Linked DNA regions of Homo sapiens. The protein of the gene in region 1 interacts with the protein of each later gene in a pairwise test. Each region holds a gene or a part of one and is shown on either strand. Other genes may lie near its edges.

Region 1 (5,576 bases):
ATAAAACAATATATGAGCTGGCAGACAAAACAGCCAGGATAGAAAATGATGTAACTGACCTGATACAGCTGAAAAACACAGTATAAGAATTTAATAATGTAATCACAAGTATTAACAGTAGTACAGACCAAGCTGAGGAAAGAATCTCAGAGCTTGAAGACTGGCTTTCTGAAATAAGACAGTCAGATGAGAATAGAGAAAAAATAACGAAAAGGAATGAACAAAGCCTCCAAGAAATATGGGATTAAAAAAGAGAGCAAATCTACAACTCATTGGTGTCCCTGAAAGAGATGGGGAAAATGGAAGCAACTTGGAAAACGTATTTCAGGATACTATCCATGAGAACTTCCCCAGTCTAGCTAGAGAGGCCAATATTCAAAATCAGGGAATGCAGAGAACCCCTGCAAAATACTTCACAAGATCATCCCCAAAACACATAATCATCAGATTGTCCAGGGTCAAAATGAAAGAAGCTAGAGAGACATAGCAGGTCACCTACAAAGGGAAGCCCATCAGACTAGCAGTGGGCCTCTCAGCAGAAACCCTACAAGCCAGAAGAGATTGGAGGCCTATATTAAACATTCTTTTTTTTTTTTTTTTTTTTTTTTTTTTTGAGATGGAATCTCATTCTGTGGCCCAGGCTGGAGTGCAGTGGTGGGATCTCAGCAGGTCACTGCAACCTCCGCCTCCCAGGTTCAAGCAATTCTCCTGCCTCAGCCTCCCAAGCAGCTGGGACTACAGGCATGCACCACCACGTGCTGCTAATTTTTATATTTTCAGTAGAGACCAGGTTTCACCATGTTGGCCAGGCTGGTCTTGAATTCCTGACCTCAGGTGATCCCCTCCCCTCCCCCCTCCCCCCTCTCCCCCCCCCCCGCCCCCGCCTTAGCCTCCCAAAGTGCTGGGATTACAGGTGTAAGCCACCACTCCTGGCCAATATATTAAACATTTTTAAAGAAATTCCAATCCAGAATTTCACATCTGGCCAACCTAAGCTTCATCAGCAAAGGAGAAATGAGATCGTTTTCAACTTGGGTGTGGTGGCTCAACCTGTAATCCCAGCACTTTAGGAGGCCGAGGTGGGTGGAGTGCCTGAATCCAGGAGTCTGAGACTAGCCTGGGAAACATGGCAAAACCCCATCTCTACCAAAAACATATACATTAGCCGGGTGTGGTGGTACCTGCCTATAGTCCCAGCCAATTGGTAGGCTGAGGCCAGAGAATAGCTTGTGCCAGGGAGGTAGAGGTTGCAGTGAGCCATGATCATGCCACTGCACTCCAGCCTGAGCAACAGAATGAGACCCTGTCTCAAAAAAAAAGAAGAATAAAAAAGATCCTTTCAGACAAGCAAATGCTGAGGGAATTTGTTTACCAGCAGACCTGCTGTACAAGAGCTCCTGAAAGAAGTACTAAATATGAAAAGAAGGCCGGGTGTGGTGGCTCATGCCTGTAATCCCAGCACTTTGGGAGGCTGAGGCAGGCGAATCACCTGAGGTGTGGAGTTCGACACCAGTCTGGCCAACATGGTGTAACTCCATATCTACTAAAAATACAAAAATTAGCCGGTCATGGTGGTGGGTACCTGTAATCCCAGCTACTCGGGAGGCTAAGGCAGGAGAATTGCTTGAGCCAGGGAGGCAGAGGTTGCAGTGAGCAGAGATCATGCCATTGCACTCCAGCCTGGGTGACAGGGCAAGACTCCATCTCAAAAAAAAAAAAAGGCCGGGTGCAGTGGCTCACGCCTGTAATCCCAGCACTTTGGGAGGCCAAGGCAGGTGGATCACGAGGTCAGGTCAGGAGATCGAGACCATCCTGGCTAACATGGTGAAACTCTGTCTCTACTAAAAATACCAAAAAAAAATTAGCTGGGCATGGTGGCATACGCCTGTAGTCCCAGCTACTCGGGAGGCTGAGGCAGGAGAATCACTTGAACCTGGGAGGCAGAGGTTGCAGTGAGCCAAGATCACGCCATGGCACTCCAGCCTGGGCTACCCAGTGAGACTTTGTCTCAAAAAAAAAAAAAAGAAAAAGGAAAGAAAAGGCCATTACTAGCCACTACAAAAACACATTTAAGTACACAGACAAGTAACACTATAAAGCAACCACACAAACAAGTCAGCATAATAAACAGCTAACAACACAATGACAGGATCAAATACATGCATATCAATACTAACCTTGAATGTAAATGGGCTAAATGCCCCAATTAAAAGGCATAGAGTGGCAAGAGCTGGATAAAGAAATAAGACCAAATGATATGCTCCCTTTAAGACACCATTCTTGGCTGGGTGCAGTGGCTCATGCCTGTAATATCCCAGCACTTTGGGAGGCCGAGGCGAGTGGATCACTTGAGGTCAGGAGTTCGAGACCAGCCTGGCCAACATGGTGAAACCTCGTCTCTACTAAAAATAGAAAACCGCCAGGCGTGGTGGCGCGTGCCTGTAATCCCAACTATTTGGGAGGCTGAGGCAGGAGAATTGCTTGAACCTGGGGGACAGAGGTTGCAGTGAGCCGAGATTGCGCCACTGCACTCCAGCCTGGGCAACACAGCAAGACTCTGTCTCAAAAGAAAAAAAAAAGACCCATCTCAGATGCAATAACACCCACAGACTCAAAATGAAGAAATGGAGAAAAATCTACCAAGCAAATAGAAAACAGACAAAAGCAGAGTTGCAATCTTAATTTCAGACAAAACAGACTTTAAGCCAACAAAGATCAAAAAAAGACAAAGAAGTGCATTGCATAATGGTAAGGTATTCAATTCAACAAGATCTAACTAACCTAAATAAATATGCAGCCAACAGCAGCACTCAGATTCATAAAGCAAGTTCTTAGAGACCTACAAAGAGACTTAGACTCCCACACAATAACAGTGGGAGATTTCAACACCCCACTGACAGTATTAGACAGATCACTGGGGCAGAAAATTATCAAAGATATCCAGGACCTTAACTCAGCACTGGATCAACTGGACCTGATAGATATCTACAGAACTCTCCACCCAAAAACGAGAGAATATATCTCATCTGTACATGGTACATACTCTAAAAACCACCACACAATTGGACATAAAATAATCCTCAGCAGATGCAAAAGAACCAAAAGCATACCAGCCACTCTCTCAGACCACAAATCAATAAAAATAGAATTCAAAACTAAGAAAATCACTCAAACCCATACAATTACATGGAAATTAAACAACCTGCTCCCAAATTACTTTTGGGTAAATAATGAAATTAAGGCAGAAGTCAAGAAATTATTTGAAACAAATAAGAACAAAGATACAACAGACCAGAATCTCTGGGACACGGCTAGGGCAGTGTTAAGAGAAATTTACAGCACTACATGCCCACATCAAAAAGTTAGAAAGATCTCAAATTAACAACCTAACATCACAACTAAAAGAACTCACGAAGCAAAAGCCTCCAACTCCAAAGCTAGCAGAAGACAAGAAATAACCAAAGTCACAGCTGAACTCTAGAAGACTGAGACACAAAAACACCATTCAAAACATCAAGTAAGCCAGGAGCTGGTGTTTTAAAAGAATGAATAAGATAGATAGGCTGCTAGCTAGACTATTAAGAAAAGAGAGAAAACCCAAATAAACACAATTAGAAATGACAAAGGGGATATTACCATTGACCCCACAGAACTACAAATAACCCTTAGAGACTATTATTAACACTTCTATGCACACTAACTAGAAAATCTAGAAGAAATGGATAATCTCCCGGACACATATACCCTTCCAAGATGGAACCAGGGAGAAACTGAATCCCTGAACAGACCAATAATGAGCTCCAAAATTGCATCAGTAATAAATAGCCTAACAACCAAAAAAAACCTGGACCAGACGGACTCACAGCTGAATTCTATCAGACGTACAAAGAAGAGCTGGTACCATTCCTACTGAAATGATTCCAAAAAAACGGAGGAGGAGGGACTCCTCCCCTACTCATTCTATGAGGCCAGCATCATCCTGATACCAAAACCTGGCAGAGATACAACAAAAAAAGAAAACTTCAGGCCAATATCCTTGATGAACATTGATGCAAAAATCCTCAACAAAATACTAGTAAACTGAATCCAGCAGTACATCAAAAAGCTAATCCGCCACAATCAAGAAGGCTTTTATCCCTGGGATGCAAGGTTGGTTCAATACATGCAAATCAATAAACATGATTCATCACATAAATAGAACTAAAGACAGAAACTACATGATCATCTCAATAGGTGCAGAAAAGGCTTTTGATAAAATTCAACATCTCTTCATGTTAAAAACTCTCAACAAACTGGAGTTTTTTGGTTTTGTTTTTTGTTTTTTTTTGAAACAGGGTCTTGCTCTGTCGCCCAGGCTGGAGTGCGGTGGCACAATCTGGACTCACTGCAACCTCTACCTCTGGGGCTCAAGTGATCCTCCCACCTCAGCCACCCGAGTAGCTGGGATTACAGGCGCGCATCACCACGCCCGGCTAATTTTCCTATTTTTAGTAGAGCGGGAGCTACCATGCCCAGCCAACTAACTAGGTTTTGAAGGAACATACCTAAAATAATAAGAGCCATCTATGACAAATCCATAGCCAACATCATACTGAATGGGCAAAAGCTGAAAGCGTTCCCCCTGAAAACTGGCACAAGACAAAGATGCCCTCTCTCACCACTCCTATTCAATATAGTATTGGGGGCTGGGCATGGTGGCCGACGCCTGTAATCCCAACACTTAGGGAGGCCGAGGAAGGCAGATCACCTGAGGTCAGGAGTTCGATACCACCCTGACCAACATAGTGAAACCCTGTCTCGACTAAAAATACAAAAATTAGCCGGGCATGGTGGCATGCGTCTGTAATCCCAGCTACTTGGGAGGCTGAGGCTGGAGAAGCACTTGAAGCCCGGAGGTGGAGGTTGCACTGAGCCAAGCATGCCACTTGTACTACAGCCTGGGCTACAAAGTGAGACTCTGTCGAAAAAAAAAAAACACTGCTAAGAGAATAAAAAGATAAGCTACAGACTGGGGGAAAATACTTGCAAATCACCTATCTGACAGAGGACTTCTATCTGGAACACACAAAGAACTATCAAGGCTCAACTATATGAAAATAACCCAATTTAAAAATGCTAAAAAGATGCACAGAGACATTTCTCCAAAGAGGATATACAGATGACAAAGAAACATGTAAAGCAATGCTCAACATTATTAGCCATTAAGAAAATGGAATAGGCCAGGCGTGGTAGCTCACACCTGTAATCCCAGCACTTTGGGAGGCAGAGGCGGGTGGATCATCTGAGGTCAGGAGTTCGAGACCAGCCTGGCCAACATGGTGAAACCCCGTCTCTAGTAAAAATACAAAAATGAGCCAGGCCTGGTGGTGGGTGCCTGTAATCCCAGCTACTCGGGAGGCTGAGGCAGGAGAATCGCTTAAGCCTGGGAGGCAGAGGTTGCAGTGAATGGAGATAGTGCCATTGCACTCCAGCCTGGGCGACAAGAGCGAGACTGTGTCTCAAAAACAAAAACAAAAACAAAACACAAAACTGTGCTGACATACTACTACATACCTATTAGGATGACAAAAATAAAA
Region 2 (3,500 bases), on another chromosome or scaffold:
CATGACGGCTTTTACAAATCATAAGCAAAAACTGCAGTCAGACTCTACTCAGATTTCCCGCCTATGCTCCTAGGACAGAGCTGGAAGGGAAGGAGGCTGGGCCTATTTAGTCATAATGCCTCCCCATCAGGTCTAGCTTTCATTCATCCATGAATCCTCACCCAAGGGCCAAGAACTGAGTTCACTGCACCCTGGACCCCTGTTGAGGTAGGAGAAGTAGACGTTGGGAGCAAGGATCCTCTCCTAATTTTGTTGCATCCCCTCAGTGCCCAGCACAGCTCCGGATACAGGGCAGGTTCACAGTCAGCGTGTTCACCTGGGTCTGTGTATGCACCTAAGAAAAGCCTCAACTCTCCTCCAAGAAACAGAAGAGGCAAAACAAACATAAGACCCCCCAAACTTCCAAACTCACAAGCTAAAGGCTATAAAAAGACTGTTTTCATTTCACTGAGAAACACTTCTTTGATCCAAAACCTATTTTTGTGCCTTTTTTGGGGGGAAATAATTATGCCCAAGGCCTGGGGCAAGCTCAAGCCTGCTGGAGGCAGAGGTGGCCCCAAGGGCAGGGCAGGCAGAGAAAGGCCCATTCTGGGGCTGGCCCTGGGAGGATGTGCAGGGTTTCAACCACCTGCCATTTCCCCAGAAGCAAGAAAGCCTCTGAGGTTGGAGTGAACACTGCATGCATCTACAGTGGAGACCCAATCACCATTACAGACAAAAAGCTCTAGAAACTGCAAAGTTGGGGTTAAGTTAGAGTCTAGGAACTGCAGTCATGCACAGCTGGCGACCAGCCAAAGGCATTTTACTGAGCAATGTTTGACTTTTGTAGGTCCCCCAGCAACATTGAGCACATGGATCTCCCTGGCCAGACAGGGCTGGGGTTTAATGTGGAGCTTTCAATGGATCACAGCAAACACTCTCTCCAAACTCCTTCCTGCATGCTGGCCTCACTCCACTCTCAGGTTCCTAGAACCAATGCCACTCTTCTAGGTCCTGCAGAATCCATGGGCAGGGATGCACGGGTTGTTTCTGAGCAAGCAGCATCTGCGAGGGCCTACCTGAAGGACTCTGGGAGGGACACAAGGGCTTTCCCAGAGGGTAGGTCCCTCCATGTGCCCTGCAGCAGCCACGGTACCTTTTCTACCATATGGGAGTCAGTGGGCTGATGGGCTGGTGATAAGAAACAGGGAGGGGGCGTAATGGTCACAAAAGGAAGGAAACACAAGAGGCCGAAGGAGTCCTCACTAGTGTAAGGGGTGTGGGAGAAGGCAGAGGTCCCTGAAAACAGGGGGATGGATTCATAAACTCTCCTCAAATCCAAGAGAAGCACAGCAAGCCAGGGATCATGGGCTCAGAGGTCAGCCAGGCAGAAGATTCTAGAGTCAGCTCTTGTTCTTGTCTTGAGACCACCAGAGAAATTCAAGGCCGGTGGGTGTGTGGCAGAACCAGAACTGGAACCCATGTCTTCTGCCCCTGAGACCTGCACTCTGTGCCTCCCAGAGCTGCTGTTCCTCCAGTCGGGCTGAAGAACGAAGGCTCAGGTGGCCTGGAAGAAAGTGTTTCATGGTGCCCATGTGAGAAGGCCTGGGCGTCCTACCCTGCTATCTACATCTGTAAAGAAGGGCCAGGCCTCTGACCTCAAGGCGTGCTGTCCTGCAGGCTCTGGGCAGGCACAAGGTCCTCCTCTCACCAGTGGGGCAAGGATGAGACATGCTTATGTGGGATCAGGAACACAGCTATTCAGATCCAATTGGGAGGAGGGTGAGTGCTCCCTTGGGGCTCCTGTGGGAGGAAGGAGCTGCTTCCTCTAAGAGGAGGAGCTTGAATCTGCACCAGAGGCTTGGACCAAAGAACTGACCTACCCATGTGAGCATGCCCCTAGCTGTGCCTCCTGGTGACCCTGCCGAAGTGTCAGCCTGTTAGCCCAGCTCCCAGACCCTGGGCCGAGCAACCTCTGGTCATGGCCGGTGGTGCTGAGCTTGGGGACAGGGCCACACATTTTGGCTCTCTACATACTCTGGATTCTATACAATCACGCTGGCCACACATGACAGACACAAGGCACAACACATCCATTAGGACAGCAAGTCCATGTCACACTGCACAAATTACATATGTCCCACGGCACAGTGGATGCACAGACAGACCAGCGGAGCTGAGGGGCAGGCGCCTCTGTGTCTCTGTGCTTCTTGGCTCCAGCTGGCAGAACGAGGGCTGTGCACTCTGCTTGCCCATTTTCCCAGCATTCCCCCAGAGCCCCATGCATCCATCAGAAGTGAAATCAAGAAGAAATCTGCTTTCAGCATCCTGGGCAGGCCTGCTGGTGCTGCTTGGTCACTCTGGGCATTGGCTGAACTTTCATGGGTATAAATTGTCTATCAAGAGATTATTCACAACCAAACTTAAGGACCCACTAGGCTCACCTCCTGAGCACACACAGATAAAATACAATAAATACAACTGATCCCCTAATGTCTGCCAGGGCCCCTGGTCAGTGGCCGAGCAGCCGCGGCTGCAGGGGAGAGTGGAGCAATGATGCGCCTGGGGACACACAGCGGGGGAGATGGCTTCTGGTGGGGGGCCTGCGGCAGGGCAAGCAGGGCGAGGGTGGGCCTCATTCACATGGGCATCGACATCACAGTATGGGTGGCACTGTACAGCAGGAGCCTCACTCTGGCCGCAGCTACTCAGAAAACGGTGGAAACATGCCCAGGTCGGCAAAGTCTTCGATGTTATAGTTGCCAGTCCCCTGGGTTGGATCTCCTGGCATGGGCAGCATGTCCTGCAGAGGAGAGGAAAAGAGAGCCACAGGGGAGTCAGCTCCTCTGTCCGTGCACTGGGCATGTCCCAGGAGCCCAGTCTGCACTCACCCTCATGGCCATCCCTAAAGGGGCAGCCCAGAGGTCCTCCCCAGCCTTCTGCGGGATGCTCTGCAAGGGTCCTCAAATGTCTGAGACCCGGGGAAACTGTTCTCCCCAGGGAGCTGTTGTGACAGCAGGTAAACGGCATTAGGACATGCCCTTTGTCTATCTAAGGTTGAGTCAGGGACCCAGGGTAGACGAGAACCCCACTGGCGGGGAGACCCCAGGCTGGCCCCAAGCAAGGTGCACCTAACAGATAGCAGATGGCCAAAATATAAGAGAAATGCAACGCAGAGTGGAGTGGAAGGAAGATGTATGTGGAGACCTGGCTGGCCTGTCTTCCATGTTTATCTTAGCGCAGGGACGAATCCCTGAATGGTTAGATTTCAGTTTCAACATGTCTTTCCAGTCCTCTGGGCCTCAGATGACCCATCCAGAAAACGGGAATAGCACTATTTTAGTTTCTTACAGCCAATTCCCCAACATGTGTTCTGTTGAATTCTCAGCCCATGTGATACTCTGTGAGAAAAGAATTCTGTGGACAAATAAGTTTGGGAAACAAGGCACACTTTGCCTACCTCCTAGAAATCCAGTCCTTATTGGTGTAATAAAAGCTCTGATACGTCCTGCAATAAAGAA
Region 3 (3,290 bases), on another chromosome or scaffold:
TTGCTGGAGTGGGGTGGAGGCAAAGTGGGTCATGTCTATCGTTTCTAAGGAAAACTTCAATATCACATAAAATTAACTCATGTATAATAATCCCTTTTATAGCAGCTCTCTTAAAGTATCTTTACATATAAGCTCATAAATCCTTTCATTGACTGGGCTTAAGAAACAGTAAAGGATAGACATAGAGAACCTTAGCTACCTCCCCTCCCCCGCCAATAAAAGAGGCTTCTTGCTTACTAGGAATATAAAAGAGTAAATAGGGAATCCCCTTTGTTTGATTTTAAAAGCTTTTGATTTAAAAATACTTTAAAAGTGTTTGTTTTTCTTCCTTTGTAGACCAGGAATGGTTCGCTTTCGAGAAAACTGGCAGAAGAATCTTACTGATGCCAAATATAGTTTCATGGAGTCATTCCCCTTCTTATTCAATCGTGTCTGATACTTACAGGATGTCTTAGGATTGTTTTTCTCATCAGGATACATTAAAAATACAATACAGCACGTCAAACCACAGAATATTTATTGAGTAATAAACTTGTGGCACACAATCCAGCTGTATTTTTTTGCATTCATTCATTTTCCATTCTGCAACCTCCATCACATTAGCAGAGTAACCAGTAAGTTGTTTTCTATTTTCTAAAGTATTTTTTTCTATCACTATATGTATCACTTCTGAGTCTTACAGGTATAGAGCTGAGTTTAGAGAGTTGCTAAAATTCACCTATTGGACCAAACTAAGGTTGGTACTTGGCTGTTTGTTCCCCATCTGAGCCTAAGTCTCCAGCTCAGACACATCTCTTTATGGGCACAACTGGGAACAACAAAATGGCAACAGTTCTACAGCTCATAATATAACCAGTCTGAAGGGTTCCCCTACTCACAGACCCCTTCATTTACTGGGAGTTAAGCCTCACTGCTAAATAATATATTTTGAAACTGGAAAACTGGGCATGCTGCCTTCCACAATACACCACTATACTCATGATTGCAGGAGGGTGGCTTGGGGACTAGGGGCAATGACACGGGAAGGATACAATCATTGCCCTTACTTATCTTTGATCTTCTTCCCATCCTCACACTGAATAATCACTTGTTCCTACCTTCCCTGTGAACCTCTCTTGCCTGGCTGCAAAATTTTAAGACACCAAAGACAAAATTACATTATGCTCTGAGTGATTACTTACAAGTACATCAGAATATTTACTTACATAGAAAAGCACTGGAAAGGAGGAACACAAAATATGAAAGACAATTGATATGGTACTGAAATTTTTCTTTTTTAACTGTTAGATATTTGTGCAATAAATAAAAAAGGAGGGAAAACCACATCAGAGCAATAGGCAAGGAGGTGGCAAACTAGATAAGTCTCCTTGGAGAACAAAAAATATATTTAAAATACAATAGCCCTACTACAACTGATTTATGGCTCAGGTGACTAAACACAATTTGAAGCAGTAACAACACTCATAAGCTGAAAATAAAATACTTTTAGCCCTTTTATTCTTCTTGCCTCTTTCCCAAAGAATATGCCAATGAAGCTGTTCTTGATGTCACAATATTCATATATCGCAGAATTTCTGCATTTAAACTACCTTGCCTACTGAAAATAAGATAATCATTTCATCTCTAGGAACCAGTAACCAAAAAAAAAATGTCCTTAGAGAATACATTTTTATTTGTTTGTTTATTTAGAGACGGAGTCTCATTCTGTCTCCCAGGCCGGAGTGCAGTGGCTTGATCTCGGCTCACTGCAACCTCCACCTCCCAGGTTCAAGCAATTCTCCTGCCTCAGCCTCCCGAGTAGCTGGGACTACAGGCACGTGCCACCATGCCCGGCTACATTTTTTGTATTTTTAGTAGAGATGGGGTTTCACCATGTTAGCCAGGATGGTCTTGATCTCCTGACCTCATGGTCCGCCCACCTCGGCCTCCCAAAGTGCTGGGATTATAGGTGTGAGCCACCACGCCCAGCTGAGAATAAAATTTTTAAGTGGGTATTACAAAATTCAGGTTTTATTATTCAGGGAAGTAGATGGATTGAGACTCAAAACTTTGGGAACTAGTTTCTTTTAACTTTTGAAAACTACAGATTTATTAGGCTAGGCAGCAACTACAATTAGGTATAAATAAACAGAAATCATTTCAAATTCAGGGGTCATTAATGCTGCTACATGCTGACTCTTATTTTCAGTAGTTGCGGGTTAAAAGTAGACATTTCCTGGAACATATATTTAATAGTATTTAAGACTGTTAATACTGTTTAATTATAAAACTTTGGGCCGGGTGTGGTGGCTCACGCCTATAATCCTAGCACTTTGGGAGGCCGAGGCGGGCGGATTGTTTGAGGTCTGGAGTTTGAGACCAGCCTGGGCAATAAGGTGAAACCTTGTCTCTACTAACTATACAAAAATTAGCTGGGCATGGTGGTGCACACTGGTAGTCCCAGCTGCTCGGGAGGCTGAGGTGGAGGATTGCTTGAGCCCAGGAGGTGGAGGTTGCAGTGAGCCGAGATTGCACCACTGAACTCTAGCCTGGGTGACAGAGGGAGACCCTGTCTCAAAAATAATAATAAAAAAACTTTTGCTCTATACTTTGAAATATGACTGCCTTATTTAAACACTTTTGAAAAACAACCACTTAAAAATATAAGGCAAGCGGGCATTTTACAATAGTATAATCAGAATGTCCTTATCACTCAGGTAATTTAAATTTATCATAGGCATGTAATAATAATGCAGATCAAATAACCTTAACAAAAACGGCCAGGCACGGTTGCTCACACCTGTAATCCCAGCATTTCAGGAGGCTGAGGCGGGCAGATCACTTGAGGTCAGGAGTTCGAGACCAGCCTGGCCAAGATGGCGAAACCCCATCTCTATTGAAAATACAAAAATTAGCCAGTTGTGGTGGTGAGTGCCTGTAATCCCAGCTACTTGGGAGGCTGAGGTGGGAGGATCACTTGAACCCAGGAGGCAGAGGTTACAGTGAGCCGAGATCACACCACTGGGCTCCAGCCTGAGTGACAGAGTGAGACTCTATCTCAAAAAACAAAAAACAGAAAACCAACCTTAATGAAAACAGCCAAAACTTCCTGGGTTCCCTCCCCCATTCACTCTTCTGACCTAATTAAAATTGAACGAAATAAACAAAGGAACAAGACCACGATATCATAGTCCCACAATTTTCCATTTCTCCCCAACTTAAAAACAAACAGAAAGGTTTAAGTGTTTAAAATGAAATCTACTTAGTATATGAAAGACAGTTAAAAATATTTAATATCATTTTAGTTTCTC
Region 4 (3,500 bases), on another chromosome or scaffold:
AAAGTCTTAAGTTTTGAAGTGAAATTACTTAAAAGACTTATGTTCTAAATTTCTAAAATTTTTCATAATTTCCACAGAAGCCTCCCCCATTTGCCTATGTCTTCTAATTAACCTTGCTTTCCTCTCATTAAATAAAATTCTTTTGTATTCATTTTTATTGGTTTTACATTGTTTAATTACTAGTGTTGTTCTGTATTTCAAATTCTAAAGTTTAGTGTTAACTGCAAATACAAATAAATAAAATAAAAAATAAATATTCAATTACGGGTTAAATTGGAGTTTGTTGGCTATTCTGAAAATATTCTAATTTTTAAACACAACTTGTCTAAAATCTTAATTTTTCCTTTAATTTCTAGAATTTATGAATTATGATAAGTAAGATATGATAGAGGTAAGTTCAAAACTGTATCTTTTTCTCACAAATATCAAAAGGTCTGAGAACAAAGTCATGAAGTTTGAATATATATAAGAATAAAGATATCTGAGTACATCGGCTTAGACTAGGTTTATTATTTTTGAACTGTAAACTCCAGTAACCCCCGGTTTCTGAGAACTACTGCATTTCTTACCTTTTTTCTGCTTTATCAGCTCCTGGTGTGCCAGATTTCTCTCATTTGTTTCATTCTCTAAGGCCTTCTTATACTGTGCTGCTTCTCTGGAAAGAATGTTCAGGTTATCTTCAGCTTGTGTTCTCTCCAGCTCTAAACGATGAATTTTTTCCTGAAGAGTTTTTAAGGCTAAAATAAGAGCTGTTGAAAAAAAATTTTGTTGATATTTTAAGTGAAAGTTTCTGAACACTTACAATCAAAGTAACATAAGAAAAATAAGCAGTATATTTTTGTTACTGAGCCAGAAAAATGTACAAGTAATGCATATTCTTCAAAAAATGAAAAATAATGACTAACACTTTGAAGAGGCGCACATTTTCTCTCTAATATATCTTGTAAAAACACTATATCTATTATTGTATTTAGTGGTTTCTAAGACTGAGAAAGGTAATAACCACAATTTTAATTTAATAAAATATTTACAAATGAAAGGACTTAAAGACAATGTACAGTCTGGGGAGCATAAGAGTATAAATATGAATAAGAACATTAAAATATAATTTCTACTAATTAACATGGCAATTTAGGTTTAAAGTTATAGGCTTTTTTTCTCAGTTCTTGAGGTATTCCGTTTTAGTCAAATCACACATATTTACTGTTTCTTTGTCCATGATGCAGTATTAAGAACCAGGATAATTATAACCTAATGGTTTACCTGATGTCAGACCTGAAAGATAATAGTATTCTATACTACTGTGACTTATATTCAACTATATTAATATCTTCATGCTTCAGATAAGTTCAGAGTTTTAACTGTCATATAGTTTATATCAAATTAGAAAGATGCTTGCTAGAGATTACCATTTTGTTTTTATAAATGAGATAAATAAATTATATTTATTCCTCTTTACATGATATCTGTAGCTGGCACATTGATTTGCATTATTATTTCTTATAGTTTATTCCACAAAACTAGTTTATTTATTAACAGCAACCATTATTATAGAAGATTTTAAAAGTAGGTGATATCAGCATCTCAGAAAAGAATTTGCACAGCTTAAAATATGCCTGGAGTAATAAAATGTTTTCCTAATTCAATTTTAAGATCCTCCTACATTTCTATTTTAAACGTTAAAATACTAGTATTTTGTAGTTACTCTGATATACTGGCTTCCTAAAATATTTTCAAGAATAATTTTGGATATATGTAATTTCTGAATCTAATTCTTGAATAAGATGCAATTCCATTTAATTCACTAACATTCTAATCATCTAGTTTAGTATTCCAAATCTGACCTTTTATTCTTCAAAGAGTATTTTCCTGTTTTCAAATGATGTTTTTATGATAACTCTGTGATATGTGTCCAGCTGGTTGTATTAATCTTCATTTTATGGCTGAAGAAGCCAAAATAAAAAATGTCAAGTAATTTGTCTAAGTTCATAGAAACTTTTAGCAACAGAATCAAAGTTAGGAGTTTTGTTAAGATTAAATATGCAATCATATTGTATTCCACATAAATATGAAAAGTTTTTTATAGCATGTTTTTACCATTCTTCAAATTTTATATCAGCATTACCTTGGCTATTTGGGCTATGAAGTATCTTAGGAGAGGTAACTTCTAAGTTTGCAGGATGGCAATTCTGAGATGGTTCATTCTGGGTGAATGAGGGAACAAATACTCTTTCTGGAGGTTTATGATAGCTTCCTACTATACTATGCATTAATTCAGAATCCATTATCTGTAGAGAATAAAGGAATGATATAGTATCATGCTTTCCTATTTTAAGGGTAAATGCATTATACAAAAATTCAGGTGAAACTTTAAAAACATAATCATATACTGTGGAGTTGTATCTTTATGAACTTAATTATAAATTCAACTCTAATAGGCTTGGCAATAAAAGAAAGAAAAGTTACTATTTCTTGTGTAAGCAGTACTGACAATTCTGCCTGATTTTCAATAATCATATACCCTGGAGTAAGCATCACATGAGTGATTTGAATTTACTGGTTTCTCAGTTACCCATAAATCCCATATACCTATCATAGTCTGAGCACTTCTCTATAAGCAGTGTGACTCTAGGATTTAAAGAGAAAGTACATATTCTAAAAGATAACTGAGCTTTTAAACACAAACCAACAATATACACTGATTCTCTAATACTGATTGTTGAATTCTAATGTATGGCTTCCTAAGGGATTTTCAAGGGTAATTTTGGATATATGAAATATCGGAATTTAACCTTTGAATAAGACACACCTCTGCTTAATGTATTAGCATTTTAATCATCTAGATTAGAAAGTTTCCAAATCTGAAGAATCTAGACTACTTAGTTTTGTTAGTCTGGTTTTTATTTTGTTGTTGTTTTTGTTTTGGTAAGAGAGCCCTTTTAACCATTTAAGCAGGTAATTTTTGGTCTAAAATTTCCAAATAATTTTATTTTCCTTTCTGCAATTTAAATATTTTAGAAATGTATTCTATTTTTTAATAGATTCCAGTCAATGTTAATTAAATTAATTCATAATCACATAAGGTGATAACTGCTTACAAAAAAATAACTCACTGGAAGAATTTTAAGCAAGAAAGCTTGCTTCAAAATGGAAATCCAAGAATTACACTATAACATTAGCCTATTTTGATTTTTGAGAGTTGTACATTTTCCATGATTTCACCACCTCCTCAATTCACAAGGCAAAGGCAGGCACTTCCCAGGATAGTATTTTCTGGAAGGGCAGAAGGCACACTTCACTTCCTAGAATTTTCTACTTTAGCCATTGCCATGATTGGCAATCTCCTAGAACATTCTGATTGGTCTAAATTAGAGGCTATAAAGCCTAAGGTTTGCTAAGATACTTGATGCTTTTTGTTCTTGCAAGGTAACCATATTTTGCTATTGTGATTAGTACCAGCTATCTCAGACACTGCCTGCTCCCCATGGGATACCGCATCT

Evidence for each region. Proteins that work in one complex are often made in the same cells at the same time.
Region 2: the proteins of AP1M1 (region 1) and ARNT2 interact in binary tests that used the Homo sapiens proteins (3 or more experiments, as listed by UniProt).
Region 3: the proteins of AP1M1 (region 1) and NKAP interact in binary tests that used the Homo sapiens proteins (3 or more experiments, as listed by UniProt).
Region 4: the proteins of AP1M1 (region 1) and CEP57L1 interact in binary tests that used the Homo sapiens proteins (3 or more experiments, as listed by UniProt).

What each region holds. Positions count from the first base shown.
Region 1 is NC_000019.10:16,210,501-16,216,076, reverse strand, and holds part of AP1M1 (AP-1 complex subunit mu-1), read right to left. Parts: intron 1-5,576. UniProt on the Homo sapiens protein: Subunit of clathrin-associated adaptor protein complex 1 that plays a role in protein sorting in the trans-Golgi network (TGN) and endosomes.
Region 2 is NC_000015.10:80,592,882-80,596,381, reverse strand, and holds part of ARNT2 (aryl hydrocarbon receptor nuclear translocator 2), read right to left. Parts: intron 2,783-3,500; coding exon 2,684-2,782; 3' UTR 1-2,683. UniProt on the Homo sapiens protein: Transcription factor that plays a role in the development of the hypothalamo-pituitary axis, postnatal brain growth, and visual and renal function. Specifically recognizes the xenobiotic response element (XRE).
Region 3 is NC_000023.11:119,920,172-119,923,461, forward strand, and holds the end of NKAP (NF-kappa-B-activating protein), read right to left. Parts: 3' UTR 501-3,290; downstream 1-500. Other genes in the region: AKAP14 (A-kinase anchor protein 14), read left to right, coding at 337-436. UniProt on the Homo sapiens protein: Acts as a transcriptional repressor. Plays a role as a transcriptional corepressor of the Notch-mediated signaling required for T-cell development. Also involved in the TNF and IL-1 induced NF-kappa-B activation.
Region 4 is NC_000006.12:109,144,007-109,147,506, reverse strand, and holds part of CEP57L1 (centrosomal protein CEP57L1), read right to left. Parts: intron 2,289-3,500; 5' UTR 2,286-2,288; coding exon 2,126-2,285; intron 750-2,125; coding exon 570-749; intron 1-569. UniProt on the Homo sapiens protein: Centrosomal protein which may be required for microtubule attachment to centrosomes.